Linked DNA regions of Homo sapiens: regions 1, 2, 3 and 4 are each linked to region 5. The links come from fine-mapping of genetic effects on gene expression. A gene starts in region 5. Each other region holds a variant in brackets. All regions are shown on one strand. Distances are between the middles of the regions.

Region 1 (4,860 bases), 74 kb after region 5:
GCTGAACAGGGGCCATCATCCCTACCTGCTCTGGAGGCATAGAAATGTCTTCGTACCTGATCGAATGACTTATAGGGACTCCATCTTTTCTGCAGTGGCACAGGCTGGAACACTGGACTAATTATTTTTCTCTGAAACTGTTGTAGCCTGGAAGACATAAACTTGAACCGTCCGAACACCTGATGAATATAACAAATATTTTTAAAATCAAATAGCACCTAGTGATAATTCATAAAATACTTAAGCCCAGTTTTAAAGAAGAGATCAAAGCCAAGCATGGTGGCTCATGCATGTAATCTTAACACTTTGGGAGGCCAAGGCAGGAGGATCACTTGAGCTCAGGCTTTTGAGACTAGCCCGGGCAACATAGACTTTGTCTCTTTAAAAAAATAAGAAAGAAAAAAATAAGAGATCAGATGCCATTTGGAATCTAAGTGAATAGGCTGGAAAACTAGTCTTCTGTTGTCTGAAATACAAAGCCAAACAGATTTTTAATAAGAGAGATTTTTATGAGAACAGAAGAAAAAAAGGTTAATGCTGGACACAGTCTATCCAGGTATTAGACTCAAAAGCATCTTTAGTTATAAAGCAGGAAAGTGGTGGCAATCTGACACGCCTGTATCACAAGGTATAAGCTTTAGCTTGCAGGGCCTCAGGAGAAAGCTAGTAGTAATTTTACTGTATGCAGATCTCTAAGCTGGGGGTGACACAGGAGGTGGGCAGGACTGGCTTCACAAGATGCAGGTCACAAAGACTCCACTGATAAGATGCGGTAAAGAAGCTGGCCAAAGCCCACCAAAGCCAAGATGGCAATGAAAGGGACTCCTGGTTGTCCTCACTGCTCATTATATGCTAATTTTCACCCTCCTGTAGGACCAGCTCCAGCAGTTGTGGGACCCAGTGCAAAATGGAAACACAGGGCCCCTCGTTCAAAAATGATAAGAATGTCAAGACGGTGACAACAGAACATGAAATCAAGCGCCAGGCCCTGCTGAGCTCAGGGCTCTGTGTGACCGCACAGGTCACACACCCATGAGACTGGCCTTGTCTTTCGGGTCCTTCACGCCCCACCCACCCATCTCCTTTACCACATGCAGACCTCCACTCTCCACACAACCCTTCCTCCAAGAGGACAGTCAATGGGAAGTAAGAAGATTTAAAAGACAAGGGGCAAAGAAAAATGCAATGGTGTGTTTCCATTGTAGAAAACCTGGTCGTGGAATTGCGGATTGCCCTGCCGCCCTTGAAAATCAAGATATGGGCACTAGAAGATGTTACAAGTGTGGGTCCACAGATCACGAAATAACCAAGTGTAAGGCTAAAGTAGACCCGCCTCTTGGCGAATGTCCTTTTGCAGAATGTTTTGTCTGTGGAGAAATGGGGCACCTGTCTAGATCTTGTCCTGATAATCCCAAAGGACTCTATGCTGATGGTAGTGGTTGCCAACTTCATGGCTCTGTGGAACATTTAAAGAAAGATTGCCCTGAAAGTGAGAATTCAGATCGAATGGCCACAGTTGGTCTGTGGGCAAAGGGAATAAGTGCAGACTATGAAGACATTGTGGATGCACCAAAACCACAAAAACCCAAAACAAAAATACCTAAAGGTGTTAATTTTTGATAACAACTAGTACTGTCATTAGTTACCACCTCATTGTTACTTTCTAAACCAGGCCCACTTCACAAGTTACAGCTGGGCTCCCTTGTAGCCAGGACTATACTGTAAATATCAGTATGATCTGGGTGTGGTCAAAAACAATTTTCAACAGAGAGAAAGAAGAAAGAAGAGAGAGAAAGAAAAAGGAAGAGAAAGAGGAAGAGGAAGGAATGAAGAAAAAGAGGAAGGAAGGAAGGAAAGAGAGAAAGGAAAGAGAAAGAAAGAAGAAAGAGAAAGAGAAAGAAAAAGAAAAGAGAAAGGGAGGGAGGGAAAGAAGGAAGGACCTACGCGAGGAGGGGCTCCGCCAACCCTCTAAGCCCCGCAACCCCCGCATGCCCCGCCTCCTTCTGCAGACCTCCCCGTCCCTCATCCCAGCAAGTCCTCACGTTAGTTGCCGGAAGCCTAGGAAATGTATTCCTAAATCTGGAGTCGTCTCCATGGCAGCGAGCCCCGAAGTGGAGCCAGTCTTGGAGTAGGAGAAAGGCCAGACACAAACAAGTGTGTGGGG[A/G]TGGGGGAGACACACATGCATGTCCGCTTTGGATCCAGATTCTCTTTTTTTTTTTTAGACGGAGGCTCGCTCTGTCGCCCAGGCTGGAGTGCAGTGGCGCAATCTCAGCTCACTGCACTCACTGCAACCTCCACCTCCCGGGTTCAAACGATTCTCCTGCCTCAGCCTCCCGAGTAGCTGGGATTACAGGCGCCCACCACCACACCCGGATAAATTTTTGTATTTTTAGTAGAGACGGGGTTTCACCATGTTGGCCAGGCTGGTCTCGAACTCCTGGCATCAAGTGATCCGCCCGCCTCGGCCTCCTAAAGTGCTGGGATTACAAGTGTGAGCCACCGTGCCCGGCCTGGATCTGGATTCTAATAGCAACAGCTAGAATTCTGAGGGACAGGCAGTGAGCTGGGAATCAAATTCTTGGCTCTACCACCCATTAGATGTGTGATCTTGAAACAGGTTTTCAGATGTGTAAGAAGGGAATAGCAAAGCTTGCGTCAAACGGTTGTTTGACTAGGTGAGCTCATGAGTGGGAAGTTGTTCTGGGCGAGCTGGTACACAACACTAGGCAGACAGTAAATCTTAGCTTCTTTGAGCCTGAGGCTGTTGTAGGTGCCAGTGATAACAGAGGCCAGAGTATCTATTCTCAAGCAATTTATATTCTAGTGGCAAGGAGATACGAAATACGCACCCATGTCTGTAATCCCAGCACTTTGAGAGGCGAAGGCCTGAAGATCTATTGAGACCAGGAGTTTGAGACCAGGAGTTCAAGACCAGCCTGGGCAACATAGCAAGACCCCGTCTCTTAAAAAAAAAAATTTTTTTTCATTTTTTTGGCCAGATGCAGTGGCTCATGCCTGTAATCCTAGCACTTTGGGATGTCAAGGCGGACGGATCACCTGAGGTTAAGAGTTTAAGAGTTCAAGACCAGCCTGGCCAACATGGTGAAACTCTGTCTCTACAAAAATACAAAAATTAGCTGGGCATGATGGCAGGTGCCTGTAACCCCAGCTACTCGGGAGGCTGAGGCAGCAGAATTGCTTGTACGTGGGAGGCACAGGTTGCAGTGAGCCGAGATCACGCCATTGCCCTCCAGCCTGGGCAACAGAGCGAGCCTCTATCTCAAAAAAAAAAACCAGTTTTTTTAATTAGCCGGGCATCGTGGTACATGCCTGTATTCCCAGATACTCTGGAGGCTGAGGCAGAAGGGTCCCTTGAGCCTAGGCTCCAGTGAGCCATAATCATGCCACTGCACTCCAGCCCTGGAGACAGAGCAAGATCCTGTCTCTAAATAAAAATAATTGGCTGGGTGCTTACCTATAATCCTAGCACTTTGGGAGGCTGAGGCCAATGAATTGCTTGAGTCCAGGAGTTTGAGACCAGCCTGGGCAGCATAGTGAGACACTGTCTCTATTTAAAAAAAAAAAAGAAGAAGAAGAATAGAAGAAAGATCTTTTTGAATAGAGATAGATGGCAACTTCCTCAGAATGGATGTGACGGTTGAACAGCACATGGAGATGATGGGAATGAGAAGTGCAGGGCAGCAGGGATCATTCTCAACAATGGTGGAAAATTGGAGTCTTCCAGGATCACTGTGTTCAGACTAATCCACCCTACATGAAGTTTTCTTTCTCTTTAAAGTGGGCCACTTGGAACAGGGACCCCTGTCAAAGAATGCATTCAAGAATCATGGATTTGGCTGGGCGAGGTGACTCACGCCTGTAATCTCAACACTTTGGGAGGCTGAGACGGATGAATCACCTCAAGTCAGGAGTTTGAGACCGGCCTGGCCAACATAGCAAAACCCCATCTCTACTAAAAATACAAACAAAATGAGCTGGGCGTGCTGGCTCATGCAGTGAGCCGAGATCACGCCATTGTACTCCAGTGTAGGCAACAAGAGTGAGACTCCATCTCAGAAAAACGGAAGAATCATGGAATGCTTCCACCAGGCACTCTGATGGATGGTGGGAGCCCTGGGCTGAGCTTAATGCCTTTCCTGAAGGAGTCACTCTCCCAAGGAGTAGGATTTGCCAGGTGCTAGAATCCGATAGAGGCCATGAGCAATACTTGTCTCAATGGTGGGATAACTACAGATTTAAACTTTGAGCCATGCACACACTCTGGTCCAGGCCCCAGTCCTGGAGCAAGAAGGAAGCAGGGGAAGGAAGAAGGTCCTCTGGAACCTGTGATTACCTGTGTTGTGTCAGGTTGTATGATTGTGGGGACCCCATTGAGTGCTACTCACAGGTTAGCCCCAGGCAGGTAGGAATGAGAAGGAGGAGAATAGGAGAAGAAGAGGAAAGGCTAGACAGGAGCATGACTGTTGGAGAGAACTTGAAGGGAAGTCTAGCAGTAGTATGGACGCTGTGCTATTGGTCAGGAGTCCTGCTGTGTTCTTGGTTTCCTAGCAACTGCTGTTAAGCAGGTAGTTGCTAGGCAATGCGGGGCCATCTAGGCGGTTAGGTAAGGACCTTTGTCTGCGTGGGCATGAATCAGACCATCACAGAGTATTGTTAATCCTGAAAATGGCCACTGGGTCCATTACTTAGATTTTTTTGGCCTTGTTGCACAGAAACTAATATAACCATGGTGCACAAGTTCTGGTCAAATGAGAAAGAAGTCACCCCATGATCTCATTATCCAAACAATACAAAAATTCTGTCTTTCCTCTTTCCATTCCAGTCTTTCTCTGCAGGAAC
Region 2 (4,860 bases), 26 kb before region 5:
ACACACATGCCTGCACATAGTCATACACATACATAGACACATCTGTCTACACACACACGAGCAAAGATGACATGTTCACTCACACAGGTGCACGTATGAATATTCACACACGTGTGTGAGTACCTGAACACGGATGGCTATACCACTCACTCACATAGATACTTACCTGTGGGTCTCAGGCATATCATGCTTGCTGAGTTCAATTACAGTGCTGTATGTGTTGTGGCCAACTAATAAAGGAATAGCTGAAGCTTGCAGCCGTCCTAGGAATCTGCTGGCTTCTTCACCCCTATTTCGCCACCAAAAGGGCTCCCCTTACCCAAGACATGTAGACTTTTATGGAGAGGTATACACTTAGAAAGTCATGTTGGGCCGGGCACAGTGGCTCACGCCTGTAATCCCAGTCCTTTGGAAGGCCAAGGCAGGCTGATCACCTGAGGTCAGGAGTTCGAGACCAGCCTGACCAGTGTGGTGAAACCCCCGTCTCTACTAAAAATACAAAAGTTAGCCAGGCTTAGTGGCACGTGCCTGTGATCCCAGCTACTCCAGAGGCTGAGGCAGGAGAATCACTTGAACCCGGGAGGCGGAAGCTGTAGTGAGCTGAGATCGCGCCACTGCACTCCAGCCTGGGCGACAGAGTGAGACTCTGTCTCAAAACAAAAGGACATGTTGTGCATACACATAAAGCACACATTTAGGAATACTCGTATTGGTTTCCTGTTGCTATTTGTAACCAACTACCACAAACTTCGTGACTCAAATTTGTCATCTTAGAGTTCTGGAGGTCAGAACTCCAAAATGAGACTACGAGGCTAAAATCACAGTGTCAGCAAGCCTGCGTTCCTTCTGAAAGCTCTAGGGGAGAATTTGTGTCCTTGCCTTTTCCAGCTTCTGAAGGCTGTGTGCATTCTTTGGCTCATGGCCCCTTCCTCTATCTTCAAGGCCAGCAGCATAGCAGTTCAAAGGTCTCTCTGATCCTCTCTCTTCTATTTATAACGACCCTTGTGATTACATTGAGCCCACCCAGATCATCCAGGATAATCTCCCTTTCTGAAGGTCAGATGATTAGCAACCTTAATTCCATCTGCAACCTTAATTCCTCTTTGTCATTTCCAGGGACTGGGATGGGGACATATTTGGAGGTCCATTATTCTGCCTACCACACTCACACACATTCAGAGTAAGGAGAACGGCAGCGTTTGCAGGATGAGAGGCAGAAAAGCTTGCTGGTAAGAGTATGGGTTTTAGGGTCAGATCCACCACTGAGGTTTTTTTGTTGTTGTTTGTTTGTTTTTTGTTTTTTGTTTTGAGATGGAGTCTCCCCCTGTCGCTTAGGCTGGAGTGCAATGGTGCCATCTCAGCTCACTGCAATCTCCCCTTCCCAGGTTCAAGCGATTCTCCTGCCTCAGCCTCCTGAGTAGCTGGGATCAGAGGCGCCACCACGCCCAGCTAATTTTTGTATTTTTAGTAGAGACAGCCTTTCACCATGTTGGCCAGGCTGGTCTCAAACTCCTGACCTCAGGCAATCTGCCCGCCTCAGCCTCCCACAGTGCTGGGATTGCAGGCGTGAGCCACCGAGCCCAGCCTCCACCACTGAGTTCTAACTCTGGCTCTGCCTCACATAGCTGTGTGACCTTGGGCCTGTTTCAGAACCTTTCTACACCTCAGTTTCAGCATCTGTGAAATGGAAATAATCACATCTACATTCTGGGATTATTATAAGGGTTAAATGAGATAATGCATGCAAAGTGACTGGTAGAGTACCCATCAGTCAGCTTTGGCTGCAAAACAAACAACAAAAATCTTACAGAGGAAACCCCTAAATTTTATCTCCCAAGGCTATATCGTAGTGGCCACACCTCCGGTTTGGTAAGACATT[G/A]TTTTGTTTTCCCACCGTGCAATTTCTGGCCTCTTTATAGTTCCTTAAAATTCTGCTTGCAAGCCGGCCACTTCCTCCTTGAGCTTAATGCAATTAGCAGTAGTCAGCACATACTTTCAACATCCTGCCCCAGATTTTTTTCATCCAATGTGACAAATGCTTCAGGCACATTCTTTACCTTCCAGACTATTCCAAGTGACAGCTTTGCCAAACGTTTTGCCATTACATAACATGAGTGCCATTTTACTAGCCTCCTACAACACTTCCCTCACCACCTGCCACCCAGTCTCAAAACCAGTGCCACGTATTTCAGGTTTTTGTTATGAAAGCATTCCACTTCAGATACCAATTACTGTATCGGTCAGCTATTGCTGCATGACAACCACAAAAGCTCAGTGTCATACAACAACAAGCACTTACTTTCTCACTCATTTGCCTGTGGATTGGAGATTCAGGGGGAAGGAATGAGTGATGAACAATAATTTCGTCTACCACACATAGCGAGGATATAGTGATTTTTCAATAAATGTCGGTCATTGTTAGCTATTCTGCCAACTCCTCATACAGTGACATTCCATAGTAAATATGCAGAATTGGCTTCTAATCCCAACTCCACCATTACCTCACCGTGAGGCTTAACGGAAGTCACTTAACCTCTCTAGGGCTTGGTTTCCTCATGTAAAAAGTGAGGACGCTGAGTGCAGTGGCTCACACCTGTAATTCCAGCATTTTGGGAGGCCGAGGGCGGTGGATTTCTTGAGCCCAGGAGTTCAAGACTAGCCTGGGAAACATAGTGAGACCTTGTCTCTATGAAAAATACAAAAATTAGCCAGGCGTGGTGGTGTGCACCTGTAGTCCCAGCTACTAGGGAGGCTGAGGCAGGAGGATTGCTTGAGCCCGGTTGCAGTAAGCTGAGATTGTGCCACTGCACTCCAGCCTTGGCGACAGAGCCAGACCCTGTCTCAAAAAATAAATAAATAAAACAGTGAGGACAGTGGAACTAGAATGTCAGATGTCTGTTGTAACTTTCACTTTTCCCCCTCCAAAGTCTGTGGTAGACTCACAAATAGATCAAGCCACCTTTTCCTCTGAGCCTGAACTTGAATTCGGAATTAATCTCCAGAAGGTACACCTTGTGGCCACCACTAAAATGATCTGAAGTTGGTTCATTAGATGAAATGATTGTTGTATCCTGAACTAGAATTGCCTCACTTAGAGCAAGATGTAACATTGGCTATCATCCAGCTCACCCTTCTTCTGAAGATGCAGGAATTTAGGTCCAGAGAAAGAAACAGCATGGCTGAGAGCACACAGCTAGTTAATGGAAGGCCATGCCAGAATCTGGGCTGGTATTCCTTTCACACCACACAGCTGGAAAGAGAGGGCGCTGGTCCTCAAATGCAGGTCTTCCAGTTCCAGGGATGTCCTCTCCCTCTGCTCTCTCATAGACACAGAACTGGGGGAAATGATTCCACTGGGTGGAGGGAGAGGGGGCTCTTCTTATTGCTTGGTAGGAGTAGAAAACCCTATGAAAGGCGCAGCCCTCTGTCAGCCCTCTCTACAAAACTCACCGTCTTCATTCACACTGCTTCACTTGACATCTTTTCTGTATAGTCTTTGAAACGATTATGTCAACATAGGAAAGGAAAGAGGTTAACACACTACAAAAAGGCCAGAGAGAAGAGCAGATGAGAGCTCATACTGGATGGAGATCACCTGGGTTTGCATCTTGACTCCAACACTTACCAGCTCTGTGATGTTGGGCAAGTCACAAGTCACTTATCTCTCCGTGCCTCAGTTTCCTCACCTGTAAAGTGGAAATACTAATAGTAATTACCTCAGAATGGTTATGAGGAGGCTGTTTAATATATATGTTAAATGTATGTAAAATATACATATAGGACTTAGAAGAGTCTCTGACACTTAGTAGAATTATACAAACATCAATTGTTACCTATTCCAGTTTTATTACCTTAGAGTTGTAGAAAATGCAGCAATTTGGAAAGCTCTGCTCTCTGCAGCCTTGCTCTCACCTGGCAGCATTCTGTCACCAACCAAATGAACCTGAAAGCCCCTCAGCCACCTCCAAGACATCACGACTTCACATACGTCATATGGACATAGGTGGTGAGAGATGCCCCTAAGGAAAAGTTCTTTTTCCATTTGATGAGAAACTAGAACTCAATTTTCAAGAAAGTCCGCATGCTTTTAGAGCTGCTTTTAGCAGAAAGGAGCCACTGAGTTGAAAGTTTCAGGGCCTTTTCTATTGGTGTGTGTGACTCATTTAGAGCAATGGTGATAAATGAGAGAAGGTCATGGGAGCTGGGGCAAGGCGGCAGGATTTGGTGGGGGGAATCGGAGCTCCATTGTTCGCAATGGATTGCTGGAGGAAATGCTGTTTGCTTGGGAGTCATTTGCAATTAACTCCACCTAGGATGAAAAATGGTGTGGGTATGAAAATGTTATACTACCCGTGTAATAATAAATCGTTAGCAGATGCTGTGGGCATGAAGATTGTTATTAGTGACTTTGGGGAGAAAAAGGTTTGTGGGAAATGTTTGATTCGAAGGGAGGACATGGTTCTTGCTCCAGCCCTGCCTGTTTGGTTGGCCACAGCACTGGGAGTTTATAGAATGGCTTGAAAAGGAGAAAGGCGTCATGTGCAGAGGGACCTGATCTGGCTCGTCCAAGCTGATGAGAGCTCTCTGTCCAGATGTGGAGGCCTGGAGCTCACCGTGCCCCTCCCGTAGGGAGACTGTATCTGGGCTTCTCGCTCTACTTTAGGTCCTGAGTCCTTGGAGGTCTGGGGCATTGCTGCTCTTGTGCATACCTGAGGGCCTCTGGCTGGAAGTGTCACACTCCAGGAAGAGCCACAATTTGGTTCAGCACAGCCATCATTTTTGGGGTGCTCTCTCTGTGCCAAATTCTCAACTCAACTCTCACCAGAGTGTTCCAAAAATTCAATCGTAAGAAGCAACAAA
Region 3 (4,860 bases), 51 kb after region 5:
CAAGATCGCGCTACTGCACTCCAGTCTGGGTGGCAGAGCAAGACTGCATCTCAAAAAAAAAAAAAAAAAAAAAAAGCCGGGCATGGTGGCTCACGCCTGTAATCCCAGCACTTTGGGAGGCTGAGGCAGGTGGATCATGAGGTCAGGAGTTCAAGACCAGCCTGACCAACATGGTGAAACCCTGTCTCTACTAAAAATACAAAAATTAGCTGGGTGTGGTGACGCACGCCTGTAGTCTCAGCTACTTGGGAGTCTGAGGCAGGAGAATCACATGAACCCAGGAGACAGAGGTTGCAGTGAACCAGGATCACGCCATTGCACTCCAGCCTGGGTGACAGAGCAAGACAACATCTCAAAAAGAAAAAAAAAAGAACAAGAAAAAGTCAGTGGGTGGGTGAGCCAGCGAATCCCCTGGACCCAGCACAGCATGATACCAAATGGCCTCTAGTCCAGGAATCCTTCCATGAAGAACAGAGAAGGTTTGGAACAATGAAAGCGATGATCACAAGAGGGAGATAAAGACAGAGAGAGAGAGCGCCTGTGCCCTGGGAAAAAGACCATCCTCGCCATCACCGTCACCCACCACCCTCACCACCACCACCACACACACCCCTGACTTGAGGGGCAAGCCCCGGGGCCAGGAAAGTCCATCTTCCCTTCCCCGAGGAATCTGCTGCAGCTCCCACATTCTCCCAGTTGGGTGCATTTCCACCTGACCATGAAGCTCATCTGTCCCCAGGTTCCTGGCTGCTGTGGCTCACCTGAAATGGAAGGAAAACAGCTCCTAGGCTTAAGAGGAGCCATTTATTCATTGAACAAACATTCCCTGCAGACCCACTATGTGTCGGGCACTGTTTGGGGATCTAAGGACACAGCAGTGAACAAGAAAGACACAACCCAACCTCCAGGAGCTTAGTCCAGCAGGGAGACAGGCACAGGTTATCCCAGAAGTGTCTGCGCAAATGCACCTGGGGTCAGTGTGAGTGCACCTATGGGCCTATTTGACCTGGTCAAGAGGATCTGGGCTGAGGTCTGAAAGACAGGACAGGTTGGCTGGGCCCAAGAAGGGGTGGAGTCCAGGCAGAAGTAGAGGCTCTGAGAGAGAAAAGAGTTTAGCCTCCTGGAGGAATGGGAGGCCAGGCGTCAGGAGCAGCTACTCAAACTGTGGTCCGTGGACCAGCAGCATGAGCATCACCCTCACTGGGAGCTCGATAGAACTGCAAATTCTCAGGCCCCACTCCAGACCCACTGAATCAGAATCTCTGGGGTGGGGCCCAGGAATCTGTGTCTTTTTTTTTTTTGAGACAGAGTCTCGCTCTGTCACCCAGGCTGGAGTGCAATGGCATGATCTCGGCTCACTGTAACCTCTGCCTCCCAGGTTCAAACCATTCTTATGCCTCAGCCTCCAGAGTAGCTGGGACTACAGGTGCATGCCACCACACCCAGCTAATTTTTGTATTTTTAGTAGAGACGGGGTTTTACCATGTTGGCCAGGCTGGTCTCGAACTCCTGACCTTGTGATCTGCCCGCCTCAGCCTCCCAGAGTGCTGGGATTCCAGGCGTGAGCCACCGCGCCCGGCTGAATCTGTGTCTTAACAAGCCTTCCAGATGATTGTTAAGCGCACAGTTTGAGAACCGATGGACTAGAGGTCAGTGAGCCAGGAAAAAGTGGCCCAGGTGACATTGGAGGGTGACAGAGGCCCTGGCAAGCCCTTTTGGACTATGTTAAAAACTTTCCATTTTCCCCCAGAAGCAATGAAGCGACATTACAGGGTTGCAGCAGCCAAGTGATGGGTCAGGTTCCTATTTCAAGATTGGCTGCTGTGTAGAAAATGGGCGGCAGAGGGACCCGAGCAGAAGCAGGGAGACCTTTCAGAGGATGCTGCAGTGGTGCGGGCCACAGAGGCCAGGGCCTGGGACTCAGGTGGAGGTCATGGAGGTGGAGAGAAGACAATAGAAAGAAGAGCTATTTGAGAGGTGTTGTCAAGGTGATCAGCTCTTAGGGTGGGCGAGGAAGGAGTTGGGATGACACCCCAGCTCTAGCCTGGATGCATGGGTGGATGGAGGCTGCTCACAGAGACAGGGACCACAGAAGAACCACAGGATTGAGTTCAAATTCGGATGGAGTTTTTTTGTTTGTTTTGTTTTGTTTGAGACAGGGTCTGGCTCTGTCACCCAGACTGGAGTGCAGTGGCACAATCTCAGCTCACTGCAACCTCTGCCTCCTGGGCTCAAGTGATCCTCCCACTTCAGCCTTCCAAGTAGCTGGGATACAGGTGCATGCCACCATGCCCAGCTAATTTTTGTATTTTTGGCAGAGATGAGGTGGGGAGGTCTCACTATGTTACCCAAGCTGGTCTCGAACTCCTGAGCTTAAGCTATCCACCCATCCCGGCCTCCCAAAGTGCGAGGATTACAGACATGAGCCACTGCACCCGACCCGAGGAGGAGTTGAATTTTTAGTGGGAATGTCATGTGGACAGCCCTCGCTTCCTCCAAGATCTTAGGCAGAATGAACAATTCTTTGTCCAGGAAACCAAGTGT[G/A]ATGACCCCTACTGAGGGCCTGGATACGGGAGAGATGAGTAATAGCACATCCTCACTCAAGCGGCAGAGACTCGGATCAGGTAGTTTGAAGGGGCAAGGCTGGGAGCATCGTGACAGGGGTTGGGGGAGGTCAGCTGTGGGAGGTCATTCCCTCCATCCCTCTGCCCCTGATGTGGGACGGGGCAGGTTTCCTACCCAAGAGGGTGCTACCCCCACGAGAGAGCTCCCACTCCTAGGAACTGGCTGGATTTCCGTTACCCTCTCTCCGAGACCCACCGGCTGGTGCTTCCCCTCTCCAGAACGTCTATGGCATGTATCAAACCCTGAACCGGGGTCCGGCCTCTTCCATTCTTGGCTGCTAAGGCCTGGGAATCACATCTCCATCTTTGCCCTGCCATCTAAAAAAAAAAAAAAAAAAAAAAAAACAGAGTCTCACTCTAGTGTTCAGGCTGGAGTGCAGTGGCATGTTCATGGCTCACTGCAGCCTAAACCTTCTGAGCTCAAACAATCCTCCCACCTCCGCCTCCTGAGTAGAACTGGGACTGCAGATGCTCACCACCATGCCTGGCTGATATTTTTCTTTTTTCTGTAGAGAGGGCGGCTTCCCATGTTGCTCAGGCTAATCTCAAACTCCTGGACGTGAGCAAGATCTTCCCAATTGCTGAGATTGCAGGCAAGAGCCACGGTGCCTGGCCCCTTTCATCTTTTGAACCATGTTCTCTCTCAACCTGCCCACCTGGGCATGCTGGGGAGAGTGGCACTTCTATTCCAGTGGGGAAGGGGAGATGGGCGGAGGCTGGGCTGGAGGCACTGGAGTGGGGCTCCCCAGACAGCAGGCAGGCAGCCATGGAGCAGGAGCAGAAGCTGCAGACACACTCCCTGCCATGGTCCAGGCAGGCCAGCCTTGGGAAGGGCCCCTTACAGTGCAGCCATAGGGGCTAGGGGAGGCCAGGCGGGAGAATCTGGAGCTGACCGCTGCCTTGCTGTTTCAGAGGAAAGCTCCCCAGAGGTAGTACCGGTGGAACTCTTGTGCGTGCCTTCTCCTGCCTCTCAAGGGGACCTGCATACGAAGCCTTTGGGGACTGACGATGACTTCTGGGGCCCCACGGGGCCTGTGGCTACTGAGGTAGTTGACAAAGAAAAGAACTTGTACCGGTGAGTGAGGGGGCTCTGCTGGTCCCAGGCTGGCCTCCCGCACCCCACTGCCCATCCTGGGTCCCCACAGACAGTCAGCGCCACCCCCTACCCCCAACTCACACTCACCACTGGGTCCCCTCCTCTTGCCAAGACAACAGGCAGAGACAGGGCTGAGACACTGGGTGTCTGCTTTTCATATGGAAAAAGATGTTTTCTTATGAAACTTAAAATTTTCAAACATATACAAAAATAGTACAAGGAGCTTCCATGTACCCATCACCCAGCTTCAGCCACTGTTTTGCCAAATTCGTTTCAGCTGTTCACTTTCCCCCTCTTTGTTATTGTTACAGTATTTTAAATCCAAGACATCGGGTGATTTTACCCTTAAATATTTCATTACGCATCTCAAAAAACAAAAATAAAAACCTTTTCTTCCATAACATAACTACAATGCCAATATCACATCTGACAAAGCTGGCAGTAAGTCTTTCATTTCATCTACTCCCCAATCCATATTCAAATTGCTCAATTGTCTAAAACATGTTCTTATAGTTGGTGTTGTGGTTTGGTTGGGTTTGGTTTGATTTGGTTTTGAGACAGAGTCTTGCTCTGTCACTCAGGCTGGAGTGCAATGGCACAATCTTGGCTTACCTCAACCTCCACCTCCCAGGTTCAAGCGATTCTCCAGCCTCAGCCTCTCTAGTAGCTGGGACTACAGTCACATGCCACCACGTGTGAAAAATGAAAATTGTATTTTTAGTAGAGATGGGGGTTTCACCATATTGGACAGGCTGGTCTCGAACTCCTGACCTCAGACGATCCACCTTCCTCAGCCTCCCAAAGTGCTGGGATTACAGGCGTGAGCCACCGCGCCTGGCCAGTTGGTGTGTTCTTATCAGGATCCAAACAAGGTCCACTCATTTTATTTTCTTTGTTATATTTCTTAAATCTCACTTAACTCTCTTAATCTGTATGCTCCTGTTTTATTAACAGCCACTAATGAGCTAAGGACTGTACTAGTAGCTGGGGACCCTAAGATGAATATGGCAGCCCTGCCCTCCCAGGGCTTACAGTCGCACTAGTAGTAATTCTCTATAGTCATACTCATGATCTCTTATATAACATGTTACCACTCACCAAACACTGCCACAGACATCATCTCAACCAGGAGACAGCGTC
Region 4 (4,718 bases), 98 kb after region 5:
GCTTAGTACATAATTCAGTCTTGTACTTCTCCTGTAACTGTTCAATTTCTTTCTGGAGATGCTGAAAATCTTCCTCACTATAAGGTGTCTCCTTACATTTATCTTCAGGAAGCAAGATGTTTGAGGGAATACGTAAAATCAGCTGCAAAAACAGTTGCTCCATTTTGCTAAAAAGGTTATCAAAATGTCCTTTCATGAAGCAAAGAAACTTCTCTGTGCATTTGCGAATCTGCACTGGGCTAATGTCACAGTCTGGGATGCCATCCAGCTTCTTCAGAATAACCTGTTCAACGGCCTGCATCACTTCAAATAGGTAGTCTTGAAATGCAATGTAGATCCGAAGCATGCACGTTTGTGGCGTGAAGCCAAAGAACTGGGCCTCGTAGGTCATTGGATCCACAGACATCTTGGCTTATTTTGCTATGTTGTTTTCAGTCGTGAAAAACCTGCAAATGTAAAAAGGAAATAATTCATTTGGAAAAAAAAAATCTTCTGCAGGAAGTAACCAATCACATTACAGATAGCAAACAAAGAAGCAAATCAATAAAAAATAAGGAGTTTGTGTTCCTTTATACCTGATGCCACTCCCACAACAGGATATAAACTCTTTGCCTCTCTGAGGCTCCTTCCATCAGCCTATACCCTCCCTTTTCCCCTCCTCGTTGTTCACTTCCCTTACCTGTGACTTTGGCACAGATCAGTCTTCTGAATTATCATCCTAGACAACTTTGAAGTCTAGACAGATGACTTAACCAATGCCCTAGAGACTCAGTTTCTTGAGCTTCAATGACCTATAGCTCCACCTTTTAGCCACCTGGCTCTTGATATTTGTAACTACTCTTCCAAACTGCTTCTACTTTTTGACTACTGCCTCCTACACAATTCTTCCAATTCTTACCCATATACTCATATTATACCCTAATCTTCAAGATTTACAGCCCCTCCACCCTCTCTTTCTGTTCTCAGCCTCTGCCACTTCTCTTCTTTCCTTATTCATTTTAGGCCTCATGATCTATCATTTTGATCACTCCGTTGCCAATGTCCTCAATTTGCTTGTCCTCCAGCCAAGCCATCTGAAAAAAACCCAATTAGAAGATGAGTAAGTCCCTTGTCAGCTTTATAACCCTGACATGTTTTTTCAAGGGTCTGCGAGTAATTCCTCTCAAATATAAACATCTAGGAAAATAAAACCCCTATCTCCTTGTCATTGTGGGAATTCAACCTAGGCATCTTTTTCTGAGATGAAATGATATTGCTTGTCATAGAAATAAGAGAAATTTTATTATTCCTTCAGATAAAGGCAATTAGCTAAAACAAACTGCTACTTCAATTATCAGGTGAATTTAGGACGCACTTTATGAAATAATTTGCAATAAGCAGTACAGTCAAATCTTATGGGAAGATAAGATGCAGCCAATCTTAAGAATTTATGTTTGTAGGCTGAGCACGATAGCTCATGCCTGTAATCTCAGCACTTTAGGAGGCCGGATGGACGAATCACCTGAGGTCAGGAGTTCGAGACCAGCCTGGCCAACATGGCGAAACCCTATCTCTCCTAGAAATACAAAAATTACCCAGGCGTGATGGTGGATACTTGCAATCCCAGCTACTCGGGAGGCTGAGGCAGGAGAATCACTGGAACCCGAGAGGCGAAGGTTGCGGTGAGCCGAGATTGTGCCACTGCACCCCAGCCTGGGCAACAGAGCGAGACTCTGTCTCAAAAAATAAAATAAAATAAAAATTTACGTTTGTAATGGTTAAATATGGAGTGGTTATAACTGTTTGGCTGTATATGTAAGGTAGGATTTCTTTCTGTTTTTCTTTTTTTCTTTTGAGACATGTTGTCGCTCTGTCGCCCAGGCTGGAATGCAGTGGCACGATCACAGATCACTGCAGCCTCAACCTCCCGCGCCCAAGCAATCCTCCCACCTCAGTCTCCCAAGTAGCCGGGACAACAGGTGCAGGCCACCATGCCTGGCTAATTTTCTTGTTGTTGTTGTTGTTTGAGACAAAGTGTCACTCTTTCGCCCAGGCTGGAGTACAGTGGTATGATCTCGGCTCGCTACAACCTCTGCCTCCTAAGTTCAAGTGATCCTCTTAGCTCAGCCTCCCAAGTAGCTGGGATTACAGGTGGGCGCCATCTCAAACAACAACAAAAAAATACACTTCCTTGATTAACTCCTTTCTTCGAATTCCCATTAGGACCTCTCTTCGGGCACTGACTGATGAACTTCTACCGCCTCATCTTCTCTGCTAGACTTAGAGTTCCTGAGAGCAGAATAAATG[C/T]GGCTTGATCAGTATTTGCCGATTCAACGCAGAGGTGCCCAGGTCATCTCGGCGAGTTGAGCTGTCTAAGACCCCGCGATCGCGCAGGACAGGACCCAGAAGCCAGAGCGCAGGAACTGCTTCCGGCCGGCTCCCGGCTTCCGTCGGGCCCCGCGCCCGCGCTGCATGCTGGGATCTTCAGGTCGGAGGCCGGGGTGAGGCCGACCCACAGGCCGCCTTGCTCCCTCGCGAAGACGCTTATGCCAGTCTCGCCCGTCCCCGCTCCTCCTCAGAGAAAATGCTGCCCCGCAGCACTTACCGGAGCGACCATGAGGGTGACGATTTGAAGCACACACAGGCTTCCCGCCACCTCCTTTAAACCGCCGCTGGCTTGCCAGGGACAGACGGCGCGGTTGGCTCCCCAAAATTCCGACTGATACGCGCCTCGGCGAGCGAAAGCAAACGCGGGATACTCTCGCGTTCCTGATTGGCTGGTTGTGGACACCTCAATTATGACAGAAAGGGGCCGGGCGGGAAAGTTAGCTGTGGCCGGCGGGGATTGGCAGAAGGAACCTGTACTTACTCGTTTTTCCCGGACGTTGGCTGGTGGAGAAGAGAGGGTGGGGAGATGGGGCGCTGGGGGGGGGCGGTGGCGACGCAACTCGTGATTGGCGGATGTGCGTTCCTTAGGTCTCTACGGATTGCGGTTGCTTGGCGTTGATTGGGCAGTCGCGGGAAAACTAAAGTGGGCGGGGGGCCTTTGGGCCCGCCCCGCCGCCGGGGCCTGCTGGCGGAAGGGGAAATGGGGTGGGTGGGGGGTGGGGCAGGCGACGGTGGGGAAGATGGCGTACCAGAGCTTGCGGCTGGAGTACCTGCAGATCCCACCGGTCAGCCGCGCCTACACCACTGCCTGCGTCCTCACCACCGCCGCCGTGGTGAGCAGCTGCAGTGCCACCTTCTCATTATCTGGGCTGGATATGACTGGGTCTTCAGGAAACTGGGGTTTGGGCCTCGGGGAGGCCCAGAGGGGCTGGTCCCGGGGATGGGTGGAGGCGTACAGGGATTACTCTGGGGTTCGAGTTGGCGCCAAGAATGCTTATCCAGTGACGCGAGAAGGGAGTGCTGCTTCATGGGGGGTCAGGTCAGTTTCTAAGAGATGAGCGCCGGACCTATAGCGGGTTAGGGTTGCGGGAGCCTCCCACCCAAGAAATGTGTCCGAGAGCTCTGCCAATGGCCAGGTGGTACCATGGTGACTAGTGAGAGGAAGGTCCGTTTAGTGAAGAAACAGGAATGGGGAAAGCAAGCTGGAAACTGTCGAGAGGGGAATGGCTTATAATAAAAAGGGTCTCTGGATCTAAATAAGGGGCTAGCTGGAGGTACCCAGCCCTAACGGTGGCAGGGTCTCCAGTCTCCGTTATTTCAAGTGAGTTTTGTTGTTTCATACAGCTGTTTCAGGTGGTGCCCATGTGGTGGGTAGATTCATAGCAGCTGTTTTTATTTGTCCTGTGTCTAAAATATCACCACCTGTCTGCCTCATTTCTTCATGTCAGCCTCAACTATTGCAACATAAAACAGACTTTTTTGTGTTAGGTATTGAGGATACAAAGAATTCTACCAATCCTAGAGAATTCTTTACCAACCTCTTCCTCTGGCCTAAGAAGAAAGGCTTAAAGGAAATCACGTCTAAGTGACCGAGAGTTGGAAATTGCTAGACCTACTAATTCTTTGTTGTAAATGATGAAATTTTGTTTCTTGATTTGCTTTAAGAAGCTCTTTTTCTATTTCAGCAGTTGGAATTGATCACACCTTTTCAGTTGTACTTCAATCCTGAATTAATCTTTAAACACTTTCAAGTAAGTGGTTCATCACAATAGTGATTAATGCTTCAGTTTCTTCTTTTTCTTACTGTTTAGTAGCAAATCCTGTTATACACTATCCTAAAAAAGAACCCAGTGGGGACCTTTGATTATAAGTTGCCTTGTCAGGATATAAAGCAGTGATTCTGCAGCCTGGTTGGACTTGAGAATCCCTTAGGGAACTTTGAAGAGATTCTCAAGCTCCTCAACAAGTACCAAATCAGAATTTGCAAGGGTAGGAATTAAAATCTGTGTTTTATTTTTAAAGTTCCCTGCATCGTTTTGATGTGTCCAGTTCCTGTATTTGGAAATCACTGGTTTAGACTTAACGTTGTCCTATGAGAGGAGGCTGACTAGCTAGCTGCTTAGGGGTTGTCTCACAGGGATGGCCTTATTTTGTCCATTCAGCACCTAGGCACACCCACCACCTTGGTGTTATCACCATGGTCCAGAAACTCAATTCTGTTAGTGCTTTTAAATTGTGATCTGTCTTCCAGGGATCAGATCATACTAACCAAATTCCAAACATCTAAAGCTATATGGTGGTTTATTAGATTACAATGGGAGATGGTCCTTTCCAGTGATTAAAATGCCAAA
Region 5 (4,860 bases):
TTGGATAGCACACCTCTGAATATCTGGGGAAACCATTCCAAGACAATGGAAAGACTAGTGCAAAGGCCCTGGAGTGAGAGTATTCTTGGTGTATTCAAGGAACAGGGAAAAGACTAAGAGGATCCAGTGAGGGAGGGGGATAGGGTAGGATATAATGCCGGAGAGATATCAGGGGCTAGATCATGCAGCCCCCGGGAACCATTGGGAGGGCTCTGGGAGATTTGGGGAGTTGTTGTTGTTGTTGTTGTTGTTTGGTTTGGTTTGGTTTGAGACTGTGTTTTGCTCTTGTCGCCCAGGCTGGAGTGCAATGGTGCAATCTCGGCTCACTGCAATCTCTGCCTCCCAGGTTCAAGCAGTTCTCCTGCCTCAGCCTCCTGAAGGAATACGGCGTGCGCCACCACACCCGGATAATTTTTTTTGTATTATAATTATTAGAGATGGGATTTCACCATGTTAGCCAGGCTGGTCTTGAACTCCTGGCCTCAGGTGATCTGCCCGCCTCAGCCTCCCAAAGTGCTGAGATTACAGGCATGAGCCACTGTACCTGGCCGGATTTGGGAAGTTTTTTAATATTATGTCATAGGGACAGGGTCTTGCCATGTTTCCCAGACTGGTCTTGAACTCCTGGACTCAAGCGATCCTCCCACCTCAGCCTCCCAAAGTGCTGGGATTACAGGCACGAGTCACCACACCTTTGGTTGGACTTTGGTTTTTACTCAGAGTGAGATGGAGTATGGGAAAGTTTTGAGCTGAGAAGTGACCTGACCTAATTTATGCTTTAAGTGGATAATTCTGGCTTCTAGACTGAGAGTAGACAGTAAAGGGGAAGCATCAGCATGGGTGGAGAACATGTGGAAGGCTAGCACAGTGATCCCAGTAAGAGACGACTGAAGGCTGGACCAGCAGCCCCAGTGGGCGTGGTGGGAAGGGTCAGGTTTCTGATCTATTTAACAGGTTGAGTGGATCTCCAGCGGCCAGTGATTTAATGAATTATGCCTGTGAAGTGAAACCTCCGAGAAAACCCCACAGTCTTGTTTGTTTGGGGTTTGGAGAGCTTCCAGGTTAGTGAAGCAGGGAGGGGCAGGGAGAGTAGGGTGCCCGGGAGGGCAAGGAAGCGCTGTGCCCCTCCCCCACCCACACCTTGACCTCGGCATCTCTTCCGTTGGGCTATTCCTGAGTCGTATCCTCCATCATGAACCGATAATAATAAATAAAGTGCTTTTCTCAGTCCTGTGAGTCATTTCAGCAAATTATTGAACCTGCCGGGGACTGTGGGAACCCTTGAATTTGTCACCAAGTCAGACAGAGATGCCAGTGGTCTGGGCACCCCATTTGCAACTGGCATCTGATATGAGGCCAGCTCTTCACTGAAACCCTAAACCTGTGAGGTTTGATGCCAACTCCAGGCAGTCAGTGTCAGAATTGCACTGTAGGACACCAGTTGGTGTCTAGAGAGTTGGTGCCAGAACTGGCTGGTGTGAGGAGGAAAAAAAGCCCACACAGCCCTCCTCCAGGCCATTCCTCCCGCTACATGGAGTCTCACGGTCCTTCACGGAGTGCTCAGAGCCTCCCGATCATCCCACTTTTAGCACAGCACTTTTCCACTTCTGGTCAATCTGATATTAGAATGTCCTACAATGTGCTTATTAGCCATTTTTTAAAACTAACATTTATAAAATTTATTTAGGCCAGGCACGGAGGCTCACACCTGTAATCCCAACATTTCGGGAGGCCGAAGTGGGCGGATCACCTCGGATCAGACTGGCTAACATGGTGAAACCCCATCTCTACTAAAAATACAAAACAATTAGCCAGGCGTGGTGGTGAGTGACTGTAATCCCAACTGCCCAGGAAGCTGGGCTGATGCAGGAGAATCGCTGGAACCCAGGAGGTGGAGGGAGCTTGCAGTGAGCCGAGATCTTGCCACTGCACTCCAGCCTGGGAAAGAGAGAGAGACTCTAAGACCTTTTGCTGAATTGAAGCCTCTTGGTAAACCTATGATGTCCCATTTAATAGATGGGCAAACTGAGGCTCAAAGAAATAAATCAGGCACATAAGGAGTCCTTGTCCAAGCAAGCCGTGGGTTGAAGCCTGGGCTCTGCCAGTCCAAGTGAAACCAAAGCATCTCCAGAAATTCCTGGTGGTGTGTTACATCAGCAAATGAGTAGGCAATGTCATTCCTCAACCTGAAGTCATTGGCATCTTGCAGATTCCACGAAAGAGGAAGTCTGCCCCTGGCTCCCCGAGGCCTGCTTGCAGGAATGAGGAAGGGGCTGTTCTGCTTTCAGGTGGAAATGTTCACCAGCTAAGTGCTGGGCTGCCCAGAAGGCAAACAGCCCCCTGGGCCTGGGACACATGCTTTAGTGCCCCTGGTAGCATGGCAGGACATGCAGTGCAACTCAAGAAGCTCCCAAAACCATGAGAGGCTGGGAAAAATGCTCCCTGGCCCAGTTCTAATGTTTCCCAATAAGGAGCTGCCCGGGCAGACACAGGGGGCCCCACCCATCCTGAGAGGCTGGGCCTGGGCTGCAGACACAACTGCTCGGAGAGTCTGCATCCTGGCTCTGCAGACAGGCTCTAGATGATGGGCTGGCGGAGTGCCCATGTGGAGGTGCACACACCGTGTTTAGTATGGGCCTGTACCTGCTGCAGCGTCAGCTGGTCTGGGCCTGTGCTCCTGGTCCGCCTATAGATGCCATGTGGCCCATCTGAATCTGTGACTCTGAGTCTGGCCTACCCAGGCCTGGTTTGATCCTACCCCCTGGCCACGCCCCTTGTGGGTTTCCTCTGGGTGACGTTTCCTTCCTGCTCTTGTTGACTAGGCGCTGTTCTTGCTGGCTGGTGCCCCAGGGCCTGGAGAGGTCTGAAGAAACCTGGGAGCCAGCAGCCCGGGGCTCCACTCTGGGTTCTGAAAGCCCATTCCCTGCTCTGCGGCTCCTCCCACCCCACCTCTTCTCAGCCTTGCAGCTCAAGGGTTGATCTCAGGAGTCCAGGACCCAGGAGAGGGAAGAATCTGAGGAACACAGAACAGTGAGCGTTGCCCACACCCCATCTCCCGTCACCACATCTCCCCTCACCCTCACCCTCCCTGCCTGGCCCTGGACCCCATCCCAGGACCTCCCTATCAGCTGACTTCTTCCAGTGTCTTGCAGGCCCCTCTGGGCTCCTCCCTCCCCTGGCTTTTCCTACCACTCCCCCTCTATCGGCGTCTATCTGTAGGTGCCCTGGGATTTATAAAACTGGGTTCCGAATGCTGAATAAGAGACGGTAAGAGCCAAGGCAAAGGACAGCACTGTTCTCTGCCTGCCTGATACCCTCACCACCTGGGAACATCCCCCAGACACCCTCTTAACTCCGGGACAGAGATGGCTGGCGGAGCCTGGGGCCGCCTGGCCTGTTACTTGGAGTTCCTGAAGAAGGAGGAGCTGAAGGAGTTCCAGCTTCTGCTCGCCAATAAAGCGCACTCCAGGAGCTCTTCGGGTGAGACACCCGCTCAGCCAGAGAAGACGAGTGGCATGGAGGTGGCCTCGTACCTGGTGGCTCAGTATGGGGAGCAGCGGGCCTGGGACCTAGCCCTCCATACCTGGGAGCAGATGGGGCTGAGGTCACTGTGCGCCCAAGCCCAGGAAGGGGCAGGTGAGTGGACAGAGGACCCCACTGCCCGCGGGACATCCCCTGGCCCTCATGCCTGCCCTGCCCTCTTGGGACCCCACCACTGAGCCCTCCCTGCCAGGCCTTCCTCTGAGCAGTGACATGGAACTGCCCTCTCAAAGGGGGATCCAGGCCCCAGACTATGCTGGAGCCAGGAGGCTTGCTGGGGGGGCCCTTGCTGCACCTCAGAGCCCCACACCCTCTTCTATTCAAGTGCATTCCCGGTACTCGCCTGGCATTGTAGTTATGAGCACGGACTTGGGAGTCAGGCACTATCACCAGTCCTGGCACTATCACCCTGGGCCAATCACTTCACTGCTCTCTGCCTATTTCTCTGTCTGCAAAATGGGAGAGTGAGAGCCCGCCTCCCTGGGCTGTGTGAGGGTTAAAAGAGATCATCCAGGTTAAACATTTAGCACAGAGTCTGATATACAGTAAGTGCTCAATAAATAAGATCTCCCATTGCTGTTGTTGCTGCTGCTGCTGCTGCTGTTATTATTACTATTAGCCACCCTGGGTTGCAGATGCCGTTGGCCCAATAAAGCACAGCTGAGGCTCAGTAGGAGTAGTGATTTACACAGGGAGATAGTCAGGACCAAGACAGATATGCAAATTTCCTGATCCTAGATGAGGATTTTTTGCCTAGCAGTATCTATAAGAACATCATTCTTCAGACAAGCCTCTAGAGGAAGTTGTAGAGGGCTGCAGCGGGTTCACTGGTGTATCCTGACCTCTCTTGGTTGAGAGAGGAGACCAGCTCAGTTCCCTGGCACCTTGCCCCTGCCCCTCTGATGTGTCTCCAACCTCTTTGTCTCTTTCCTGTAGGCCACTCTCCCTCATTCCCCTACAGCCCAAGTGAACCCCACCTGGGGTCTCCCAGCCAACCCACCTCCACCGCAGTGCTAATGCCCTGGATCCATGAATTGCCGGCGGGGTGCACCCAGGGCTCAGAGAGAAGGGTTTTGAGACAGCTGCCTGACACATCTGGACGCCGCTGGAGAGGTGAGGCTTGCTGAGGCAGGCTGACAGCCCTGGGTGGAGCTGTGAATCAGCTGGTGGGCCCCACCCAGAGGATCATGTCTGTGCATGGGGACCTGACATGGGGGACAGCAGAGGAAGGATAGGGGAGCCAGGATGGGCTGTGAGAGGTAGGCCTGAAATTGATCTTTCAGGGACCTTCCGGTGCTGAGATTGCATCCCTCCCCATGT

Evidence for each region. PIP is the estimated chance that this variant, and not a neighbour inherited with it, causes the effect.
Region 1: its variant is fine-mapped to the expression of NLRP1 in sigmoid colon (GTEx, PIP above 0.99).
Region 2: its variant is fine-mapped to the expression of NLRP1 in whole blood (TOPMed, PIP above 0.99).
Region 3: its variant is fine-mapped to the expression of NLRP1 in whole blood (INTERVAL, PIP above 0.99).
Region 4: its variant is fine-mapped to the expression of NLRP1 in whole blood (INTERVAL, PIP above 0.99).

What each region holds. Positions count from the first base shown.
Region 1 is chr17:5,508,800-5,513,659 of GRCh38, reverse strand. It overlaps LOC101928044 (zinc finger CCHC domain-containing protein 9-like), which reads left to right and starts at 934. Exons shown (of 1, transcript XM_047437231.1): 1 at 934-1,708. The coding sequence starts at 1,033. The coding sequence ends at 1,620. It also overlaps a transcript of NLRP1 not described here. The variant A/G (reference allele first, on the strand shown) is at 2,165.
Region 2 is chr17:5,608,290-5,613,149 of GRCh38, reverse strand. No RefSeq gene overlaps it. Among named protein-coding and RNA genes, the nearest start is that of NLRP1, 26 kb to the right of the region's middle. The variant G/A (reference allele first, on the strand shown) is at 1,880.
Region 3 is chr17:5,531,661-5,536,520 of GRCh38, reverse strand. NLRP1 (NLR family pyrin domain containing 1) reads left to right here. Exons shown (of 17, transcript NM_033004.4): 9 at 2,533-2,624; 10 at 3,137-3,217; 11 at 3,537-3,699. It overlaps LOC124903902 (a long non-coding RNA gene), which reads right to left. Exons shown (of 4, transcript XR_007065590.1): 2 at 2,821-2,942. Among named protein-coding and RNA genes, the nearest start is that of MIS12, 48 kb to the right of the region's middle. The variant G/A (reference allele first, on the strand shown) is at 2,545.
Region 4 is chr17:5,484,551-5,489,268 of GRCh38, reverse strand. It overlaps DERL2 (derlin 2), which reads left to right and starts at 3,091. Exons shown (of 7, transcript NM_016041.5): 1 at 3,091-3,200; 2 at 4,053-4,118. The coding sequence starts at 3,108. It overlaps MIS12 (MIS12 kinetochore complex component), which reads right to left and starts at 2,703. Exons shown (of 3, transcript NM_001258217.2): 1 at 2,585-2,703; 2 at 680-1,073; 3 at 1-446. The coding sequence starts at 406. RefSeq lists enhancers at 2,084-2,193, 2,434-2,533, 3,154-3,213, 3,254-3,433 and silencers at 2,707-2,874, 2,824-2,983. The variant C/T (reference allele first, on the strand shown) is at 2,287.
Region 5 is chr17:5,582,463-5,587,322 of GRCh38, reverse strand. NLRP1 (NLR family pyrin domain containing 1) reads left to right here and starts at 2,814. Exons shown (of 17, transcript NM_033004.4): 1 at 2,814-3,636; 2 at 4,477-4,653. The coding sequence starts at 3,366. RefSeq lists enhancers at 2,426-2,725, 2,746-3,005, 2,277-3,476.